2 separate regions of the Homo sapiens genome follow, and region 2 is linked to region 1. Evidence: fine-mapped expression QTL. A gene starts in region 1. The other region holds a variant in brackets. All regions are shown on one strand. Distances are between the middles of the regions.

Region 1 (11,790 bases):
CTGTCCGGATACCATCCTTCAACACCCTACTCAAATGCCGCCTCCTCCAAGAAGCCTTCTTCCCTCCACTTGGAAGTAAAATCTGCTTCTCTACTCATTCCTCTCTCATGGTCCTCATCTCATGCCATGTTCTGTTCTAGCTGATAACATTTACATATGTGACTCAGTGGTATACCTCATGTATTTGACACACAGAACGGATCATTTTAATGACCCTCTGCTCTATAAGACAAAAGTATTTTCAGTCATATTTATGTAAAAATCAGCAATCATCACTACTTTCTCGATTTCTTCTTTAGTTATAAAGCAGTGAACAATTTTTAAAAAGACAAATACATTTTAACTTTAAGATATTCAAATGCAGTAAAAATATTTTTCGTATGAGTCCAAATTTTTACCTATCAAACAAGATGTTACAACTCATTGTTCACAATCTGTTTTGTTGCTTTAAATTTTAAACACATATGAGAAGCTTACAGGGGTCACCTAGGATGAGAGAATTGAAATAATTCAAGTTCTGGTTTTTTGTTTGTACAACCACTACGCTATCATTTTTTGTTTCAAATCTACTGTTTACATGCAGAAGCAGGTAATAAGTGCCACTGAGGTTGGAGACATAAGGACGTCAAAGGATCTGAACCATCGCACACTTACTCTTGCAACAAGAACACGCCCCTGAGTCTGTGCATGTTGGGGCCAAGTGCATAACCGGGAGTTCTCCAGATTAATGTCAATGTAGAACACAATATTTATGAAAGGATAAATAATAAAGATGTGATGAATTTGAAGCTTACATATACTTACTACATAAAATCCAACAGTAACCACGGAGATTGTTTAGAACTTAGGCCATAAAACCATTTTTTTCTGGAAAGAGCTTTGCCTTTATCGCTGATACTCTTTCTTTTGGGATGGAGTTTCACTTTGTTGCCCAGGATGGAGTGCGACGGCGCCATCTCGGCTCATTGCAACCTCTGCCTCCCGGGTTCAAGCAATTCTCCTGCCTCAGCGTACCAAGTAGCTGGGATTACAGGTGCCCATGACCAAGCCTGGCTAATGTTTTGTATTTTTAGTAGAGATGGCATTTTACCATGTTGGCCAGGCTGGTTTTGAACTCCTAACCTCAGGTGATCCACCCACCTCGGCCTCCCAAAGTGCTGGGATTACAGGCGTGAGCCACGGCGCCCGGCTGACATTCTTTATAATTGTGATAATGACAGGCAGATCAGCTTTTGGTTATATTTGTATTTAAATTCTCCACAGACGGTTGCTCTTTTATTGATGGCACATCCCCCCTCCACCCAGTCCCATGGCCCCCTATTCCCTCCCCACCCCACTCCCACCCCATTTGACTGTAAATTCCTGCAAGGTGGGGACGGCTGTGCAGCCCCCTGTTGTACAGTGCCCACTGCACAAGCGCAGTGGTTTGCAGGCCAAGGCCCCAGGGAGATCGCCTTAGGATGTCCTCCCTTTTCCTCTATGGGAGGCCAGATTTTCTTCCTACATTTCAAACAAAGCAATACATCACAACAGACTGAGTACAGAAACAGGTAAGATAATCCAGCTGTCTTGGGAAGCCAGATATTAGAGAGATTTGCAACATTTCTTTGTAAAACAATGTCACTCTTCTCCATTTAAAACTTATTTGGAAAATACAAGTTATTTTTCATAAAATTACATTATATGTGTTAATATGCAAGGGTTTATTATCATTTTAAAAAGTGTTAGCAGATTTTAAAGATTTCTCAGTTTTAATTTCTAATGAAGGAAATATTGATATCTCACATAATAAACACTGTTTGGGGTCCTCAGTGATTTTTAAGAGAGGAAACGTGTGAACAGAGTGTGTGAGTTGTACTCAGGCACTGCGTTACGTATGGCAGGTGCTCATGTATGCTTGTGACACTCATGAGGGACTGACTGAATAGGTAGCTTTCAGCTGCTCCTAGGATTTGCAAGCTGAGGCTGGGGTGGAGGGGAGGGAGAAGGTGCCTGTTGATAGTGGGCCCAGTACCGGGAAGGTGGGACTTGCCAGGGTCTAGGAGCAGCGTTGGCTCTCATGGCAACACCGACTGGGGAACCTGGGTCTCAGGCATTGGGGCTGGGCATAAGTGTGATGTGCCATGTGGGCTTCAAGCAGCTCACGCTATCCAGTCCCCCTTAGTGCTGAAGGGCAGGAACAACTGTCTAAATCTCCCTCTCTGTGAGAGGAACTGAGCAGAATGTTTTTCTAGAAACCTCTGGCTGTCAAATCACTGGGTGTGGGCTCGACACAGAGCACTGCGGCCTCAGTAGACAGATTGAGGCTGCAGGTACCTCTCCCTGCTCTGCCCTGACCAGCTATGCGACCGCCGGCAAGGCACTTAACTGCCAGCTTACTCAACCATATGGTGAGGATGAGATAAAATGTCCGTGGAGTGCCTGGCACATGCTGGGTGTGCAGCACATTAGTGACTCCATTAGTAAGATGTCATTAATAATAAATACTCAAAAGAAGTAGGCTGGGAGGAGGGGCTAAAGAGGAAGGGTCCTTGAGGGAGTACTTCCTGGTGCTCGATGAGTGACAGTTGAAGCTTGGCATAGATCATGGTTTCTCAGCCTCTGCACTAATAATGTTTTGGGCCAGACAATTCATTGTTGTGAGGGCTGTCCTGTGCATTGTAGGATGTGAAGCAGCTTCCCTGGCCTCTACCCACTAGATGCTGGAAGGGAAGCACTCTCTCCCTGGTCTTAACAACCAAAAACCAAAAATGTCTCCAGACATTGCCAAGTGTCCCCTGGAGGGCAAAATTGCCCCTGTTGAGAACCATTGGTGTAGAAACTTTCCTGACAAGGGCTCCACCACAGGACACCGGCTTCCCTGCGGTTTCCCCAGAAAGACATCATACCAGCCACATGCACACAGATTGGGCTCACTCATTGCAGAAAGAATTCTGCCAAGAGATTCTGCTTCCAAGAGAACAAGAGGCCTCCTGACTTGGATCCTCTTTTCTGAGGAACCCTCTTGCTAATAGTGGCCACTTCTCTCAGCATTTGCACAAACTAGGCCCCGGGGAAAGAAGCAGGCTGATCAGGACAATGAGATTGCTCAAGGAAAATCTGGACAATACCCAGAAGCCTGGGGGAGGCCATCCCTCCCTTCAACCTCTATCTCAGCACTGACAGCTTCCAATTCCCATGGCTCCATTGCAAAAACAGTCCTGGCCAATCCACAGTAGAATGGATAAAGGAAGTGTGGCATGGTCCCGCAGTGGAATGCTACAGCAGTGAGAATGAATGAGCCTCAACTCCACGAAACTGCATGGTTGACTTTCACAAACATAATGTCGAACGAAAGAAGCCAGACGCAAAAGAGCAACTGATGTGTTTCTATTAATGAAAAATCTCCCCAAAGGAAAAAATCATATATGTTAAGGCTCAAGGGGCACACAAGGAAGGCTTTGGGGTACTGGTTCAGTTTGTGAGAACTCATTGAGGATTTATGATAGAGGCCCTTTTCTAGAAGTGTGTTATAAACTTCATTAAAAAGTAAACAAACAAATACAACATTCCGGGGCAAAGGGCAGGAAAGGCCCTTTAGCAAAATCACTATGAACCAAGGGAATAAAGATTACCAGCAATTTTACCTGTATGGCTCTAAATTATTATGTAAGGGTCATTTTTGGATGTGGCTTTATAAATGAGATGATGTGTCAAAAATAATTAGTATAGTGCTTGGCACAGAAAATACTTAGTGAATGGCAATAATTAATACTGCTACTCAGTTATTAACTGGCCTATGAAGTAAAATAGTCAAATACAAAGGAACAGCCTTTTTCTTAAAGGGGAAAAAAGCTTCTGAAATTTTTAGGTACATCCCGTTAGGGAATTTCTAATTCTCAAAGTTGTCGGAGCTCTCTCCAAGGCTAGTCTTAGAGAAAAGAAAAATCTCAGACTCTACCTTAGCGTTACTAGCTCCTGACCAGTAACCAGTACCAAAACAAATTCCCAAACACCTGTCTAGTCTGGCCAAATTGTTCAATTAACTGATCCGTCATTTATTGGTCCACTGCTTAGCCTGGAAGCTGGGCTCCACTCTACTACCTTCCTGATAAGGCATTTGATCTGTCTTTCGCCATCAATCTAGTTTGTGAATTTACAAACAAAACAGGCAGGACGGCTGTTGGATTCTTCAGCCTCAGACTAAAATTTTGGCAGCAAAACAAAGTCTAGAAATTGTGCAATGATATCTCTACTTTAGACCTGACTGGAAATAGAACTCTCATAAATTCCCCTCTCTTCTGAGAGAGGCAGGCAATTAGACAACCCCAACCCGACAGAGCATTTCATTGCAAGCCTGGCTCCCCGGTTGCAAATTAGATGCCACATTAACTCTCAGGAAGATCTGAATCGCTTTCATATCATTTGCCGCTGAATAACTTTTAGCATGACTGTTTCCATATCAGATACGCAAGAGACTTCACTGCTAGCTGCAGGCACTCTTAGAAGACTTTTAATCCGAGGATGATTTTCTAAAATTTCATTTCTGTTTACAAACGGCTACGTGTCCCTGTGAACCTGTGAGGTCGTGTATAGAACCACCTGGCACGCTCTGAAGCAAGCTCTGTCCCATACAGTCAGAAACCCCTGGATTCTTTGTGACACACGTTTTAAAAAGAAAAGTTCATGCCCATCTCTGGAGAAAAGTCAGGCTCTTACCTGGTTTCAGGCTTTGTCCAAGGGCACTTGATTGGATAAAGATGCATAAAACCAACAGAATGGAGAAACACAGGGGACTTGTGTCCATTTCTCCGTTTCACCCGGGGTCCAGGCTTTCTTGGTAATTTCTGAAGCCAAAGAGACCACAATGCCTATTAGATACTTTGTTAGGGAAGACTGCCCATTAATAATTAACCTCTCAACATGTTATCCACTGTTCAGACCCTTTCTTTACTGCCCCCAACTGCAAATCTAATTATATCTATTTTAAAAAGGTCGATTTACAGAAGTGCTTCTTATCCTGACACATTTTGAGAATAAAATACCTTGTTATGTATTCTTACCTTTTGGGGCCAAGGTCAGAGTTCCAAATTAATCAACTTAAAGCTACTGTGTTGTGTTTGGAAATTCTGCCAAAGGTCGGGGTAGGTGGCTTCCACGTGGCTGCCTAAGCCTCCCTGTGACAGCGCTGCAAGGGGGATGCTGGCTCAGGAAAGTGGTGTTTCAAATTGCAGCCTAAGCCCAAAGAAAAAGAAAAGGGCCCTGCCACGCAGAGAGCCCCCAGAGGGTCCAAATTTCTGTTGGGTTCAGTGAAATTGGTGATGCTTGTGGTCAAAGTGTGGTGCAGAAAACCCTTCACCCCCGTGTCAAAAGGAGCTGACGAAGAAGCAAAGATGCCCTTGCCAAGTGACCCATTGAGAGGTGATCCTAGAGTAAACACACTTCTTCCCCCTCTGTGTTCATTAATGTTCCAGCTGTGTAGAGGACTGAAAAGTAAGGCCACTCAGCAAAATCAGGTAGGGAAAAGGCGACCATAGATGGCTTTTGTGATATTTTTGGACCTCTAGTTTTACTTTAACTTTCTTCATTTGTTCAACATTTATATATTTTGGTATGCCTACTAGGTGCCAAGCACTGTTGCAGGCACGTGGGGTATACAAGTCCTTATGTATCAGTGGAGGTTCTTACCTTCTGGAGTTGGATAACGGACAGTAGACATAATAAAGAAGAGATTTCTGGCCAGGAGCGGTGGCTCACTCCTGTAATCACAGCACTTTGGGAGGCGAGGAGGGCGGATCACGAGGTCAGGAGTTCGAGACCAGCCTGACCAACATGGTGAAACCCCATCTGTACTAAAAATACAAAAGTTAGCTGGGCGTGGAGGTGAGTGCCTGTAATCCCAGCTACTCAGGAAGCTGAGGCAGGAGAATCGCTTGAACCTGGGAGGCGGAGGTTGCAGTGAACTGAGATCGCGCCATTGTACTCCAGCCTGGGCGACACAGAGAGACTCCGTCTCAAAAAAAAAAAAAAAAAAATTAGGTAGACTGGTAGAATGTAATGGGAACCACTACAAGAAAAGCAGGGGGTTGGGGAGAAGGTAGGGATTTTAAGCAGAGTGGTTAGAGTGAATTGCATTGGGAAGTTAAACTTTCAGCAAAGGTTTGAAGGAAGTGAAGGAGTTGCCCCTGTGGACGTCTTGGGGAGGAGAGCTTCGGGCAGTCTGTGCAAAGGCCCTGAGGTAGGAGTATGCCTGGTGTGCTCCAGGAATAGCAAGGAGGCCAATGAATGGGGAGACATTGTAAGGACTTTGACTTTTATGCATTGACACATGGGGGGCGACTCTGAGCAGAAGGGTGATATGATTTGTATTATAGTTTTAAAATATCACTCTGGTTTGCAAGTGAGCCAGGGTGCAGTGGGGAGATCTGTTAGAAGGCTATTACAGTGGCCCAGTGAGAGGTGATGGTGGCGTGGCCCAGCATGGTAAAGGGCAACTGCGGAGTGGTGGATGGGTGGTGGATATATTTTGAAGGTAGAGCCCACAGGATTTTCTGACTGCTGAGTTGTGAGATGTGGGAGAAAGAGAGGAGTTAAGGATGACTTCCAGGTTTTTTGGCTTGAACAAGCAGATTAATGGGGTTGCTGTCAGCTGAGAAGGGGAAGCTGTGAGTGAAGCAGGTCTGTTGGGGGAAGATTAGAGATTCAGCCTTGGCCACGTGGGGCTTTGAGATGGCTCTTAGACATCCAAGTGGAAACGTTAAGCGGGCAAAATTAGATAACATGGTAATTATTGCCTGGACGAGCCTCATTCAAAGGGCCTTCTGAAGCCACCACCAGACTTGGACGATCTTGACCCAGTCTAAAGCTGTGTTCTGTCCTATGACTGTACCTTCCTCCCAAGCCCCGAAGCTTGCGGACCATCCCGTCAGATATACAATTTCTTTTTCTTTTTCTTTTTTTTTTTTGAGATGGAATCTTGCTCTGTCGCCCAGGCTGGAGTGCAGTGGCGCGATCTCGGTTCACTGCAACTTCCACCTCCCAGGTTCAAGCGATTCTAGTGCTTCAGCCTTCAGAGTAGGTGGGACTACAGGTGCCCACCACCATGCCTGGCTAATTTTTGTATTTTTAGTAGAGACGGGGTTTTACCATGTTGGTCAGGCTGGTCTCTAACTCCTGACCTTGTGATCCACCCACCTCGGCCTCCCAAAGTGCTGGGATTACAGGCGTGAGTCACCGTGCCCATCAGATATACAATTTCTGAGCAAGGACTTCTGCCTTGGATACTTGGCTGGCTCCTGCACAGTTAAGCAGAATCTGAAAGTTCCACTTTTTTTCCTATAAAGCTGGCACGTAAGACCAGCTGGCTACCCATCTCGGGCTCCTCTCCCCTGTGCCCACCCTCATCTCCTCTCCTCTGGGTACTGCCAGTAACCACCGCCACTCCCCATTTTATTCGGGACACAAACTCATCAAAAGACACCAGTGAATCCAAGTGCCTCTGAAATACCAACCGTGTGCCCCCACCCGCCCCCCAAATTTCTGCAGAGTACACTTTCTTACCACTTTCTACGTGGTAAGAACACTTTCAACATGGGAAGAAGCCTTCAAGATTGTTTCTAGCTCTTGTAGTTCCTTTACTTGCACCACCCCAAATTCCTCTAACATCATCTCATGCCAACTCAAATTCTATAAGGCTCTCCTGGAAAATGACAAGGAGGAGTGGGTACCTGTCCCCTTTCAGGGTGTTGTCTGCTTTCACCTCTACCTAAGCTCTTCCAGCCTGCCCCATCACCGGGTCTGACCTTCCAGTGGTGGTTTTAATGCACAAGCTCTGTTGTGTTTTCTTGAAGCTGACCAGGGAGGCTACTGGCAGGGAAGAGGGGAGGACTTCACAGAGTATGAGATTTCCTGAACTGGGGGGGTCCTAGGCCTATCTACTTGCTGTATATAATATTATATAACCTTAATGAGTTCAATCTCCTCACCTATAAAATGGGGACAACATGTATCTGAGATAATATTTTGAGATATCAACTTATTTTTCTCCCAAACTGTCTCCCTTCCACTTAAGAGGGGCAAAGTAGAGAGAAGGCTACAAATCTTTTGTCTTCCAAAAATATAGGACCTTAGGGCAAGTGAATTTTATTTTATTTTATATTATTTTATTTTATTTATTTTAGAGACAGGGTCTTCCTATGTTGCCCAGGCTGGCCATAAACTCCTGGGCTCAAGTGATCCTCCTGCCTTGGCCTCCCAAAGTGTGGGCAGGTGAATTCTAGCCAACAAAGAAAAGCAAAAGACTAACATTTCTTGAGGGGATGTGAAGGGAGAAGGAACCCCTCACCTTGCCATCACTAGAAAGACATTCTCTTGGGCTTTGCAGGTGGTGTGGAAGGGGGAGGTTTGTCTATGGGTCTGAGAGCAGAGGGGACAGTACCTTGCTTCCCAGAAATCCTGCTGGAAGAGAAGAACCCAGGGAGGAAATGGCTGTGTTGGCACATGGGCAAAAGATATACCTGGCTTGATGTAGGGTGGGAGAGCAGTGAGTCTCTGGGGCCAGCAGGTCATGTTGATGGGAGGATGGGCCCCTCAGTGGCCACCAATGTGGACTGATGACAGAGGACTAGGTCACACTCCCCTGACCCCATGCCTGGCTATTGTATTTGTCCAGAACTATGGCATAACTACTGGGGTTGGGGGTGGGGTGGGGAGAAGAAATCCAGAAGGCCTGAAAATAGGGGTTAAGAGTCAGGAATTTAGATGGGTTACAGAGAATAGAGAAATTTATTGCACATCAGAATCTCTGGACTGAAATTAATACCTCTAGGAAAAGAGGTATGCCATGAATATTAGAGATTTGTGTGTAAGGTGTCAAGCCAAGTGCCTGGTTCATAGTAGAGGGTCAATAAATTATAATGACCTATTTTGTGGGCAATATACTTAGTGGTCAAGGGTCCATGCTTTGAGGCTGGGTGCAGTGGGCAGTGGCTCACACTTGTAATCCCAGTGCTTTGGGAGGCTGAGGCAGGAGGATCACTTGAGGCCAGGAGTTTGCGACTAGCTTGGGTAACATAGCAAGACCCCATCTATATAAACATAAAAACCAAAAAATTAGCCTGGTATGGTGGCACACACCTGTAGTCCTAGGTACTTGGGAGGCTGAGGCAGGGATATTACTTGAACCCAGGAGGTGGAGGCTGCAGTGAGCTATGATCACACCACTGCACTCCAGCCTGGGTGACAGAGTGAGACCCTATCTCTAAAAGAAAAAAAAAAAAAGAGTCCAGCCTTGGGAATCCGACAGATACAGGCTTGAATTCCTAGTCTGTCACTTGTGCTTACTAGCTGAGTGAACTTGGATAAGACATTGTGACTGAGCTTTAGTTTTCTTCACCTGTATAATGGGACTAATAATACCTCCCTAGTCTGATTAAGTGAGGCAATGCATGTGAAGCCCTCAGCAATCCTAGGCCACAGGAAATAATTAATGGTAGCTAATTTTTTTTAATGTTTAAATTCACTGAGGGGATCACGAAGGTGTCCAGGAGGTAGATAACAATAAGACCACAGTGATATAATTGTAGCAAAAAATGTAAGGGGCAGGAAAACACAAGGGTCTGGATCAGTGGCTGCAAAATCCAATTGAGCATGAGAATAAGAGTCAGCTGGGGAGCTCAGACAATGACAACTTATGGGCCCATCCCAGGAATACTGAGTAATGGAATCAACACTAGGGTCAAGGCCCAGTGAACCTTCATTTTAAGCAAGATCTCCAAGTAATTCTTGGTTACACAAAGTTTGAGAACCATTGCCTCAGAATGGTGCTTGAGAGATCTTCTGGGGCAAAAGAAGAAAATAATATAGACCTTTCAGATTTTTCTTTGTATTTCCTTAGACAGTTCATGTTTGTGCACGTATAATGTTTATAGCATATAAGTACTATATAATTTGCAGGTGGTACTACGGAATATACTAGTGCTATATTATTTATAAACAAATAAATAGATATTGGGGATAAGATGTGTTGTCAAAAAATGGGTAAAGCCTCTGCCTTAGAGAGACAGAATGGCTCCCAGGGCTGCCAGACCTGACTGTCATGTGCTTGACTCCAGCCATGCATCTGAGCAGTCAATAGATCCATTCATAGCATCTTTGGTCATTTCCATGCCCAAGGAAGCCCAGCAGTTTCTTGAGGCCTCTTCATTTCCTATTAGCTAAAGAGGAGGCAAGCCTGAGCCTCTTAGAGTTTGGAGCCTCCAATGGAGTGATCAGCATGGTGCATGTTAGCAGAGCTCTGTGGCTTCATCCTTTGCAATTCTTTTATTTATTTATTTATTTTTTGGGGGGATGGAGTCTTGCTGTGTTGCCCAGGCTGGAGTGCAATGGCATGATCCCGGCTCACTGCAACATCTGCCTCCTGGGTTCAAGTGATTCTCATGCCTCAGCCTCCCTAGTAGCTGGGATTATAGGGTGTGCCACCACACTTGGCTTTTTTTTGCTTTTTTTTTTGTATTTTTAGTAGAGATGGGGTTTCACCATGTTGGCCAGGCTGGTCTAGAACTCCTGAGCTCAAGTGATCTGCCTGCCTCAGCCTCCCAAAATGCTGGGATCACAGGCATGAGCCACCATGCCTGGCCTCTTCCTTTGCAATTCTTTAAAGACGTTTCTATTTTGGGTGACATTGCACTCTGGTCTGCAGTCCTCTATCTAAAGTAATAATGGTTTTATAATTAGGTTTTTAAACATTGCCCAGTTCTTGCTCTGTCTTAATTTACAGAGCTTCTTGAATAAATAAAGATTTCAAGAGAGTGGCATTTGATGACCTGAGAATGACCTTTTTCTTTAGTGTCATGGTGATAAGAAAGTTAATTAGGAGAGAAGAAACAGATATTTTACAAGGATAAAGCAAGCAAATCCCAAGAGGAAGAGGCCAGGGGACCAAGTTGAAGTTCACTGATGACAGAAACAGAATTTTATACCCAGAATCAGGTTTTCTTCTTTTCATCTTCAGGAACTGGGATATCTTACCTGAGAAAGGCAAGCTTTTGTTGGTGTTATAATAAAATAATACTTTAAACAATAAAATTTGACACTGTTATTTCCTAATTTTGCAGTTGAGATTTAAGAGGTTGGGAACTGGTACCAAACTGTATCTCACCAGTAAAAGACAGAGAGAGGAGAAGTCAGGGGATCTGAGGCCAAGTTCTGTTCTCTTAACAACCACAAATCCTTAATCCCTATGTATCTGGCTTTCCCTGGGACTGAATCAGGTTTCTCTGCACATCAGCCTAGTCCACTTCCAAGATGAAATGAATTTCCTTGGATCATGTTATAGGAAAATGACTCTATCCTCTTATACTCCTGCTTGGGGCCAGGGTGCCATGAGGAGAATGACCAAGTTTTTATTGGGTCACTCACTGATCTGTGTGGACATTCTTGCGCCATGAGGGAATATGGCAAAACAAGTAGGTAAACCTCGTTAATTTGAGTTAGCCTGGAACGTCCTCATTTGGAAAGTGGTTGGACTGGAGTTTAACCTTTTCCTTATCTGTGTTAGAAAAAAAAAAAGACCTGATAAACAAAGGAAGGGTGAAAACAAGATTGCAGAGGACATTTTAGACTATTTGGAAGAATTAGGTGTTTCAAGCATTTCAAATAGGTATTTATTCATCCAAGATTATCACTCCTGGTGACCAGGGGTGTCTTTGCATCAGCTCTGTCTCCAACTTGTTGTGTGACCTTGGGCAAATTCTGTAACCTATCTCTGCCTGTTTATTCCCCCGTCAAATGGGGTTATGAAGGTTAAATTAT
Region 2 (11,790 bases), 19 kb after region 1:
TAAAAAAAATAACTGTAAACACACTGTACAAAGTGTTTAAATACCTGTGTATTAACAACACATTAATGGCATATTTCAGGGGCATTAAATATTCTTTTAAAACATTATTTGAAATAGCTACAGAGTACAGTTACACTCTATAGATGTACCATAATTGGCTTAATTCCCTATTGTTTTTTCATTAACTGTATTTAAGATAACACTATTATGAACAATGCTATTATAAACATATGCATAAATCTTGGTCCACATGTATGATTTTCTTTGTATAAATTATTTTTTTAGTAGCTTAAAAAAATTTTAGATTCTGAGGGAACATGTGCAGGTTTGTCACATGGGTATATTGTGTGATGCCGAGGTTTGAGCTTCTAATGGTTCCATTGCCCAAGTAGTGAATATTGTACCCGATAGGTTTTTTTAACCTTTGTCCCCCTCTCCTTCTCACCCCTTTTAGAATGCCACTGTCTATTATTTCCATCTTTATGTCCACTTGTACTCAATGTTTAGCTCCCACTTATAAGTGAGAACGTGCAGTGTTTATCTGCTTTTGTGTTAATTTGCTTAGGATAATGACCTTCAGCTGTAGCCATGTTGCTGCAAAGGATGTGATTTTGTTCTTTTTTATGGCTGCGTAGTATTCCTTAAAAATAATACTACAGATCATATATGTACCACGTTTTCCTTTGTATAAATTTCTTAAAGTAGAATTGCTAAGGCAAAGGTTTTATATCTAGGTATCTATATCTACCTATATATTTTGCCTTTACATATACACTGCTACGTTAAGTAAATTTCTGTCATTTTAAGTACTCATTAGCAGTGAGTGTACTCCTCCTCTGTCCTATCCTCCACCCTTGTTAACATTAGCTATTAACATTTTTGTAATTTTATGCTAAATTGATAAGCCAAAATGGTATGTGCATTTTTAAATTTTTCTTTAAAACCAATGGGTTGAAGTTGAATTTACCACCACTTCCATTTTTATTGCCTTTTTTCTTTCTTTATGAATTATCTGTTCATGATATTTATATATTTTACATACTTTATATGTTTTTATATGTAAAAACTGAGGTGCTCACTTAAGAAATTATAATGATTTCAAACACACGCATGCGTATAATGCATAGTTTTGAATACCACCTACTTCCCAGCTCCATCAAATCCTAATATTTTGCTGTACTTGCTTCCTATTTTTGCTAAAAAATAGAGTGCTGTACCTGTATAACTGTGTATCTCTTCTCAAGCCTGATCTTATTTTTCCTGTCTCAGAGGCAACGCCACCCTGAGTTTGGTGTCTTTCATTCTCATCTCTGTGTGTATATGTTTGCAGCATATGTATGTAGCTACGAAAAATATACAGTAGTTCCTCAGTATCTGTGTGGGATTGGTTCCAGGACCACCCACTGATGCTCAAGTCCCTGATACAAAATGGTGTAGTGTTTGCATATAACCTATGCACATTCTGTCATATGCTGTAAATCACCTCTAGATTACTTATAATACTTAATACAATGCCTATACATCCCTTCATTTGCCTGGTTTTAACATGGTACTCAGGATGTGGCAAATTCAAGTTTTGCCTTTTGGAATTTTGTATAATTTTCCCCCCAAATATTTTGCATCCTCGGTTGATTGAATCTATGGATGTGGAATCCCATGGATATAGAGGGATGATTGTACCATTATTTTGTATGTTTTCAAACTTTTATACTCTACACATCTATCTGCAACTTGTTTTGTCACTCAGCAGTGTATTTTCGAGATTTATCTCTGTTGATAAAACACCTACAAATGGTCCCATTTTAAGAAAGTATCAGAATTTGTTCATTGGGTTGATGGATACTTGTGTTATTTAGTTTTTTCATTTTCCTATTACAATATTGCAGTAGACATTGCATCATCCACAAGTGAAAGCTTCTAGAGTTTATTCCTAGAAGTGAAATTGCTGGATTGTAAGATATATGTCCCATCAGAGTTAGTAAGATGTTGACAATTTATTCTTCAAATAAATTACTTCCGTGAAAGTATCGTTGGCAAAATGTGAGTGTTCCTTCAGTTTTTCCACCTCATCACCAACACTTGAGGAGTGTCAGATTATTTAATTTTCACCAGTTTGATGGATGTAAAATGGTATCTCATTGTTTTAATTTTAAATTTTCTGATTACTGGTGAGGTTGAACATTTTCTTACGTGTGTGATTGTTCATTCAAATTTCTGTTGCTGAGAATAGCTTATTCATATCTTTTGTCCTTATTTCTATTAGTTCATTGCAGATATCCTCCCAGTTTGCATTTTATCTTTCATATCGCCTGTAATGTCTTGTTTCACAGAGTTTACATTTTTGTTTAATGAGATTTACACAGTCTTTCCCTTCAGGAATATCCTTAATGTCTTCATTTCTTCAATTTTCCTTTTTTTTTTTTTTTTTTTTTTGAGATGGAGTCTTGCTCTGTTGCCCATGCTGGAGTGCAATGGCGTGATCTCTGCTCACTGCAACCTCCACCTCCCGGGTTCATGTGATTCTCCTGCCTCAGCCTCGTGAGCAGCTGGGATTACAGGCATGCACCACCACACCCAGCCATTTTTTTTTTTTTTTTTTTTTTTTGTATTTTTTAGTAGAGACGGGGTTTCACCATGTTGGTCAGGCTGGTCTTGAACTCCTGACCTTGTGATCCACCAGCCTTGGCCTCCCAAAGTGCTGGGATTACAGGCATGAGCCACTGGGTCCAGCCCAAATAGTAATTCCTTTACAAAAGATATTCTGTGATTTGTTATAATCTTCTGGCATCAGTAGAATTTACCTTAATTAGTGGCTACATGCTATTGTTTTAATTTATAGCTGTATTTTATAAGCTCAGTTAAAAATGATTTTTCTGCCTATGCTCCTTGAGTAACCCATGGATAGATAAAATTTATTGATCAATAAAATTTAGCAAATAGACAGTATGCACAAGCCATTCCTGCCTTTTAGGTCTTTAGTAGATGTTGCTAATTGCCTGCATTATTTTCTTCATCTGTGTATTCATATATTCACTTATTCAGCAGCTGTTTTGGGAAAATCTGCTAATATCTTTGAGCCTGGTTCTAATCATTTCGAGCCAGTTTTATAGGAATTGGCACTTGTGCACATTTGCCATCCTAAGACCGTGTGTTTATGTGTGTGTGCGCCTGTGTGGTATTTCTCACAGGTTTGTGGATGGGGATAATACTCATCTCTTAGAATGAATTGGGTATCAGATCTTGTTTTTCTGTGATTTGGAACTGATTACATAATACAGAAAAATCTGTTTCTTGAGTATGTAGTAATATTGTTCAGTAAATTTGTTGAGGTCATAATATTTCTTGTGGTAGATGAGATTTTTTTAAATAACAGCTTTTCAGTTTCCTTTGCCTTCATCATTATTTTCATGTTATCTACATTTTCTCTTGCCAGTTAATATTTTGTGTTGTCCATTTGGCTAAGCATTTCAAGTTGATTATCATAAATTTTGCATTGCAATCATTTATATTTTAAAATCTTTTGTATCGGTTGTTAAATCACTAGCCTTGTTTTTAATTTTGTTGATTTATACCTTTTCTTTTATTTATTGTATTTCCAAGGGATTGATCTATCTTATAATCTTCTCACAGAATGAGCATCTAAATTTATGTATTATTTCCACTGATTTCCTCTTTTCTAGTTTATTTCTGTCCTTACTCTTTATTATTATCTATTTTCCTTTATATTGACTGTCTTCATAAGATTTTAAGTCAAATGTTTATTTCATATTTCTAAAATAAAAGCACATAGATTTACGCCTTAACTTCTGGGCTCTGATTTATACAAAGCCCCCTCCCTTTTGATATGGGGTGTTTTCAATTTTATAAACATCTCAAAAGTTGTTATCATGTTCTTAATTATCTACTTCACTGGTCCCTAACATTTTTGGCACCAGGGACCAGTTTTGTGGGAGACAGTTTTTCCATGAATGGGGGTGGATGCGTGATGGTTTCAGAATGATTTGAGCATATTGCATTTATTGTGTACTTTATTTCCATTATTATTACATTGTTAATATATAATGAAATAATGATATAACTATAATCTACTCACCGTAATGTAGAATAAGTGGGAGGCCTGAGATTGTTTGCCTGAAACTAGATGGTCCTGTTTGGGGGTGATGGGAGACAGTGACAGATCATCAGGCATTAGATTCTCATAAGGACCATGCAATCTAGATTCCTCACAGGCACAGTTCACAATAGGGTTTGTGGTCCTATGAGAATCTAATGCCACTGCTGATCTGACAGGAGGCGGAGTTTAGTGTGAATGTGACTGATGCGTAGCGACTGTAAATACAGATAAAGCTCTGCTGCTCACCTCCTGCTGTGTGGCCAGGTTCCTAACAGGCCACACACTGGTACTGGGGGTTGGAGACCCCTGTTCTACTTGAACTTGTAGTTTAGGAAAGTTTTTGTGGTTGTTAGACATTGATACCCATTAATTTGTTGCTGCTGTAATTTTTTATTAATATTTTAATATAATTTTAAACTTACAGAAATGTTAAAAGACTAGTATGAACTCCTATACACCCTTTACCTAGGTGCACTGTTGGTTTGTATTTTTCCCTAGTTATCATTCACTCTGTCTTTATGGATATGTGAATGTTTTTCTGAACAATTTGAGAGTAAGCTGCATACATACATATATATCTAAATACTTCAATATATATTTCTGGACACAAATATTTTCTTTTATAAAATTCAAGAAATTTAACAGTAAAATCAGGAAATTTCATGATACCATATGATTAATCCCACCATCCACATTCAAATTGTCAGTTATCCCAATATTGTGTTTTTTAATATATATAAAACATATATTAAAAACATATATATAAAACATATATAAATATAAAATATATGTGTGTTTTATATATGTGTGTGCGTATACGTGTATATATGTAGAAAGACAGAAATTGAGGGTATTTTAGAATTTACAATGACAGACAAGAAACTGAGATGGCTGTATGCCTACCGCAACCACCATCTGTAGGCCACCCAAGAGTAAATATTTATTTTCTTCTTGTACTCTGTTTTTCAGAAGTTCATGTTTATTTTCAAATTTACTATTTTTTATTATTCACATACTATATATTCATAGTAGAAAAGATAAAGCAATATAACAAAAATTGGCAGAAATATCAGTGCACAGAGATAACCACTGTTAGTATTTAGATGAATATTTTATAGACTTTTGCTTTCAATCGACAAAAACTCTAGATACTTTTTCTAGTTAAATATGAGTACATTAAAAATGGAGTTATATTGTACGGCTTACGGTTTTAACTCTCTTTTAAGTCTTAGTTTATTTGACATACTTATAGGTAATCTTCATAACAACTTTGCAAGGTAGAGCCTCATTTTTAGATGAGGAATCCAAGGTTCAGAGAGGTTCAGTAAACTGCCCAGGTCACACTGCAGTAAGGAATGTAGTTTATAATCTAAACCCCGAACTGTTTGCTGCAAAGGCTCTTGGTTAGATTATTCTTTTGCCCAAGGCTCCTTTCATTGCTTTTACTTATTCACATTTAGCTTTATTGCATGTGGTGAGAAAATATGTATATTTTTTCCTCTTGATTCAATTTTTAGGGCCTTATTTGAGAGTTAGTATATATGTACCAATGCCCCCATATGGAAAAAAATGTGTAATCTATGTTGGTATTGAGTTCAGTGTATGTCTATTGGTTCTAACTTATCAATTGTATAACATAACCTCTATTGTCTATTTTTGTCACGTCTTCAATGTCTTCTAAATTTTTGTCTATTTAAATTTGTCTTTATTTTTTACTCTTGTCTATTTTTTTCTTAGCCTTGAAATGAATTAAACTCTCCCTTTACAATTGCTTGTTTTTTATTCTATTTCTCTTTGCATTTCTGACTTTAGTAACCTCTGTCTTCACAGTTGATTTTCTATTTTTTATCATAATCAGGAGCTTCTTTGTATCCTCTCCCTGTGTTTTTGGCTTCAAAATCTCTTTTATATGCTATCAACTTTACCAACTATTTTCTTTTTGTCGTATGAGTTTCCTCATTAAACCTTTTTATTTTAGCATTTCTGCATTTTTTGGGTAACAGATTCCTATTTTTAAGCAACATACGTATTGTTGGGTCTTATGTTTTAATCCAATATGAGAATTTGTCTTTTTAGAAATCAATGGCCTAAGGCCGGGCGCGGTGGCTCACGCCTGTAATCCCAGCACTTTGGGAGGCCGAGGTGGGCGGATCACAATGTCAGGAGATCAAGACCATCCTGGCTAACACGATAAAACCCCGTCTCTACTAAAAATACAAAAAATTAGCCGGGCCTGGTGGCGGGTGCCTGTAGTCCCAGCTACTCGGGAGGCTGAGGCAGGAGAATGGCGTGAACCCGGGAGGTGGAGCTGTGGCAGTGAGCCGAGATGTTGCCACTGCACTCCAGCCTGGGTGACAGAG[T/C]GAGACTCCGTCTCAAAAAAAAAAAAAAAGAAATCAATGGCCTAAATATATAAAGTTCTTTGGGGAGAAGCTAGTGTATTGATATGAGATGGGCTCCCAGCTACTAGCTGTGGACTTTCTACAAGTTCCTTAAATACCCTGTGAGGAAGCTACTTACAGGCGTCTTTATCTGTAAAATAATGTTAATAAGCACACCAACGTGATAGAGTTGCTTCGAAGATTAAATGAGATCAAGAGCAATCAGAAATAGAAGCATATTAAAGCATATTAAACTGATTATTTGTAAAATGCAATTGTCAATATTTGCTATGATAGACATTATGTCTGGAAATACCATCCAAAGCAAGTTTCTTGGCAGTTAGAAAGCAAGTTGGTTAAACGATGATCTATGCTCAAAATGGGGATAATCAGTTCTATACTTTTCTCCAACCATATTTTAAATTTTTCTTTGAGATAATGGGAATAACTTACAAGAAAAACTGCTGAGAAGCAGTGGTCCAAAGCCTTTTTAGAAGCTCTCAGGGTTCAGTTCAAGTTGTCCATCTCCATTTCTGGCTGCACCTGGAGCTTCACAGCTTGACTTAAATTCGGCCATGTCAGGAATCACTCACTGCCTTGCTTTCCATTTAGTTAATTAAGTGCTTAGGTTTACAAATAAGTTATTTGCTCTCATGACGGGTATGGAAGCTGCAGGCTTTGCTGTGCCTTGGCAATTCTCATCAGGCGTGGAAAAACTGAAACTAAGAAAAACCAACCAAGCGATGATAGATTTTCCACTTCCTGGATTGTGTGACTTGCTCATCCAATGAAAGGCAATGAGGGTGGGGTGGGGGGCAACCAGAGATGAGGACTGATTCTCAGCTTGTTGTTCTCCTCAGCAGTCCTCCAGCCCCTGTACAGCTGGAACCTCTGCATCAGTGAAAGCTGCTAGGAATTCAAAGTGCGTTCACATTCACTTCTGCTCCTCAGGATCAGAGGCAGTGAGGAAAGCTAAAAAAAAGTCTGAGGTTTAAATTGGAACCCATTTTTAACTTTTCAAATGTTCTTGGTATTTTAAGATCCAGAAAACCTTAAATCAGACAATTCTATATTACCAAACTGAAGAATAGTCTATAATATCATAATCTGATATGCTCCAGACTGACCTGATTTATTTTTACTTGTATGAACTTCAAATCTGATGGCTTTTATTTGATCCCTCAGAGGATGCTGTAGGTCCATTTCCCATCTGATGCAATAGAGGTGTCTTTTTTTTTTTTTTTTTTTTAAACTTCTCTGATAATAATCATCATCTGGTGTCTTGTTACACAAATGTTTCTAAGTTCCTCCCTAGAGATTCTGCTTCAGTGGGTCTGGGATGGGGCCTCAGATTTGTGGTCTCTTTTTCTGTTTGTTTGTTTGTTTTTTTGAGACAGAGTCTCACTCTGTCATCCAGGCTGGAGTGCAGTGGCGCGATCTTGGCTTACTGCAACCTCCACCTCCTAGGTTCAAGTGATTTTCCTGCCTCAGCCTCCTGCTTAGCTGGGACTACAGACACACACCACCACACCCGGCTAATTTTTGTATTTTTAGTAGAGACGGTGTTCTACCATGTTGGCCAGGCTGGCCTCAAACTCCTCATCTCAAGTGATCCACCCACCTCGGCCTCCCAAAGTGCTGAGATTACAGGCATGAGCCATCGTGCCCAGCCGGATTTGTGTTCTTAACATTAGCTTGGGCAACAGTGGAGTAGACTGAGGGGATAGATTCTACTTTTACAATTAGAAAGCCTTGGGCTCAAGTCCTGGGTCTTTCACTTGCTCGTTATGTGGTCTTGCACAAATTACTTAATCTTCCTCAATCTCATCTGAAAAACAACTGGAGATAAAAATATCTAAAAGTGTTGTCAAGAGGATTAAAATAACTAACACCCTTGATAGCATCCACTTTTCTCAGTATTGCTAAATCATTTCTACCCAGGTTAATTTGAAGATTATCTGTGAATTTATTTAGCATGCAGGCATAATGTTTTTTACTTATTTTCCTTGTTTATTTGGTGTATATTTGTGAAGCTTTTGCTGTGTGCCAGACACTGCGATTTTTAGAACACACTGAGCACTCCCTGATGGTATCACCTGCTCACATGGTCCATCTCAGGTTGTGTTTTCGTTTTTGTTTTTTGAGACAGAGTCTTGCTCTGTCTCCCAGGCTAGTGTGCAGTGGTGCGATCTTGGCTCACTGCAACCTCCACCTCCCAGGTTCAAGCAGTTCTCCTGCCTCAGGCTCCCAGGTAGCTGGGACTACAGGCATGCACCATGATGCCTGGCTAATTTCTGTATTTTTGGTAGAGATGGGGTTTCACCATGTTTGCCAGGCTGGTCTCGAACTCCTGATCTCAAGTGATATGCCCGCCTCAGCCTCCCAAAGTACTGAGATTACAGGCATGAGCCACTGTGCCCCATCCATCTCAGGTTTTTGAAAGTACTACCCAGCTTTCTTGTGTGAAAGAAAGCAGGCCCCTAGTTATTCATGGAGCTTCTTGGATTAGGAAGGCCATGTCCTTATTCCTCCTTTGTACCAGAAATTCAATTTTTCTTGAATCTAATCGTGTATTTTTTTCAAAAGAAAATATATATAAAATTATTCGATTTGATTTTACACAGAATATGTTCCAGGTACTTTGCATTAAGTGAATTGTCTCTTTTTGGACAGAAAAACCTTTGTACTTTTCCCCCTCCCCTCATAATAGCAAGAATCCAATGGATTTTTGATGATTATGCCTATGTTTTCCTTATATTTAGTTTTGCTTCAAAAGAATTTAAAGCACTTTTAAAAGATAAAAACAATGCAAGACATTAAGAGGAAAATTAAGTAGGAAAAAAGGATGGGAAAAATATAGTGAATTGATAAATGAAATTACACTTCAAATATATGTTGTACAGTCTTTTATACTTCCCAGTGATGGGCCAGATATTTGGCTCTGAACTCTCTAGCTCTCATTGCAAACCCTCTGCAGACAAAAGATGGAGGTGATGATTCTCAAGCCATGTAGATGATTATTGGGATCATCATCTATATGAGTCTTGAACTTTGTTTTAACTTTTCCACTGGCCCAAGACTTTGGGTCCTAATCAACATTAGGGTCATTAAGAGTTTACAGAAGGGTCATGAGTACCATGGAAAACTATGTGCTCGCCAATCTTCCAGCCAAACACAAAATAGATCAGGGAATAAGGAGGCCTCCTGCTGCAGAGGAGATGATAGCCAGGTGGGAGAGCTGGGCCAAGGATCAGCCAATTTTCTGGTACAGAAAGTGTAACCATGGCAACAGTAGTGAAGGTAGCTCTAGTTCCATCAGCAATGACACCCTTAAGAGGTACCGGCAGAGAGAGAAGCCTGTTGTACATCTGGGCAAGGGTCTCGGTGAGGGAAGTTCATGTAATTTTTAAGCATAATCGTTGGGAGAAAATAAACAGCCTCTTTCATGTTAACCTTGCAAACTCAAATAGACAAAGTGAAGGCCAATGACTGGCGGTACTGCCTGGCTGAGGCTGGATGTGACTGCCTTGCCTGGGAACCTGTAGCCTGCCTCAGGTTTGCCTTTTATTCTCTTTACTTTCTAGTAACAGTGCTCACAGGACTTTCAATAAGCAAAGCCCAGAGGGGGAGAGTTGCTTTTGAAGCCACACTCTTGTCTGCCTCATTCATTTCAAACAGAGACACTTCTGAAAGAGACGAAGGCCTGTGTACAAACAACAATGCCCACTGCATTCTGTTGCCTTCAGCTGTGATGTGGTGGCTTTTGATTCTACACAGAAGGTCCTTGTTTCAGACACTGATTGATGGGTCTTCTGAATGGAGGAGGCAGCAAGAACAAATGAGCAAGGCCCCTGGTAAGGCCAGGTGCTTCAAGAGGATGGGCTGGAAAGTGCTTAAAATAAAAGGTAAACACAAGCCTCCACAACAGCAAAAAATACCAAGGCACTGAGTTCTGAGTGGTTGATAATTGGTAGTTCCTAAGGATTTCCACATGTTTGTGCAAACACATATAAGCTCCTTGGAGAACTCTGACCTGGAATTTCAGACTTTTTGGTGGAGGAACCAAAAGTTAAACCCAAATAGATGTCATAAAACAGGTAAAAGTAATTGAAATAAAGAGCACTGGAGGTCTGAGTCTGGTTTGAGGCAGTGAAACAGAAAATAATGCAGTGAAAGAACAGGTGATGGGGCATCTCCGTCTCAGAGAGGGTTGTGATTTTTCACCAGAAACCCATGGAAAGCCACATAAAGGCTCATTCTAAACACAATGGACAGTGTTAGGACCTGCTGTGAGGAAGCTGTATGAGATGTGCCTCCCTTCTCCATCAACCCTTGTCCTTCCGTTTTGCCTAACAGAAACAAACCAGTGAAAAATCCACATGAGAAATCTGGCTATACTCAGTACTTTTGCAAGAAAACACTATGAAACTCCCTGTGAGTCTGCATTCTTCATAGTCCGTGGGGGAGCGTGGTGCAGGCTGAGGAGATGGGGTGGGGATAGTGAGGGTGGAGGGAGAGGACGGGAAAGTTAAATGAAGCAGGGATCCTTGTCCTGATCAGTGGTTTTTATACATTATGTTCTTATAAAAAAATAATTTTCACCAGCTAGATGATGTTCTACTGTTTAACTAAATTAGGGGTGTTAAAATAGAGATCATAAGAATGACGGAATGGACTCTTTGTGGCAAAAAGATACTAAATTATAAACAAGACCCAAGGCCATGCCAGGGTAGGGTTAAGTCACACATCCCAACACTTAAAGAATAAACTAGGTTCTAATAGCTGCAAGGTTTTTCTTTTTCTCTAGCCGCTAAATAAGCACTGGCCTCTGGAGAAGCAATATTGAAATAATTGCAGCTCACCAACCACCAGACACTAACTCATCCATCTCCCTACCCCTTTTCTGCAAGCCATAACTACTACTTTGATTGGATAAGAGACTGATTTCAGTAACTTTCTCCTGGTTAAGAGTCCACTGACCATAGACTGGTTCTGGCCAGTTTACAGAGGCTTGCACAGAGTGCCTTCCTGTCCCCTGCTTCACCATTTGACCTATAGGACCTAATTGCAAGGAATTTAAATGTTAAGTCTGTACCCCAAAGTGAACATGGGACGCATGTAACATGCATGTTTGTTTACTAGGCATGTGTGTACCTGCCTTCGGGAATATTCATAGCTCTTCCTATAACCTGTTGAATATGTGTACTTAGCTAACCCGTTCATCACAAATTCCTGTTCTACTCTTTCCTCCCTCAAAGTGCCTGCTTTTGGTTTCTGCTGGAGGCTGTGCTTCCAAGC

What was found. PIP is the estimated chance that this variant, and not a neighbour inherited with it, causes the effect.
Region 2: its variant is fine-mapped to the expression of LIPC in whole blood (INTERVAL, PIP above 0.99).

The regions. Positions count from the first base shown.
Region 1 is chr15:58,425,029-58,436,818 of GRCh38, reverse strand. It overlaps LIPC (lipase C, hepatic type), which reads right to left and starts at 4,828. Exons shown (of 9, transcript NM_000236.3): 1 at 4,699-4,828. The coding sequence starts at 4,786. It overlaps LIPC-AS1 (LIPC antisense RNA 1), which reads left to right. Exons shown (of 3, transcript NR_120338.1): 3 at 1-1,918. RefSeq lists a silencer at 6,515-6,809 and an enhancer at 6,515-6,809.
Region 2 is chr15:58,405,974-58,417,763 of GRCh38, reverse strand. No RefSeq gene overlaps it. Among named protein-coding and RNA genes, the nearest start is that of LIPC, 20 kb to the left of the region's middle. RefSeq lists a silencer at 7,000-7,294. The variant T/C (reference allele first, on the strand shown) is at 6,475.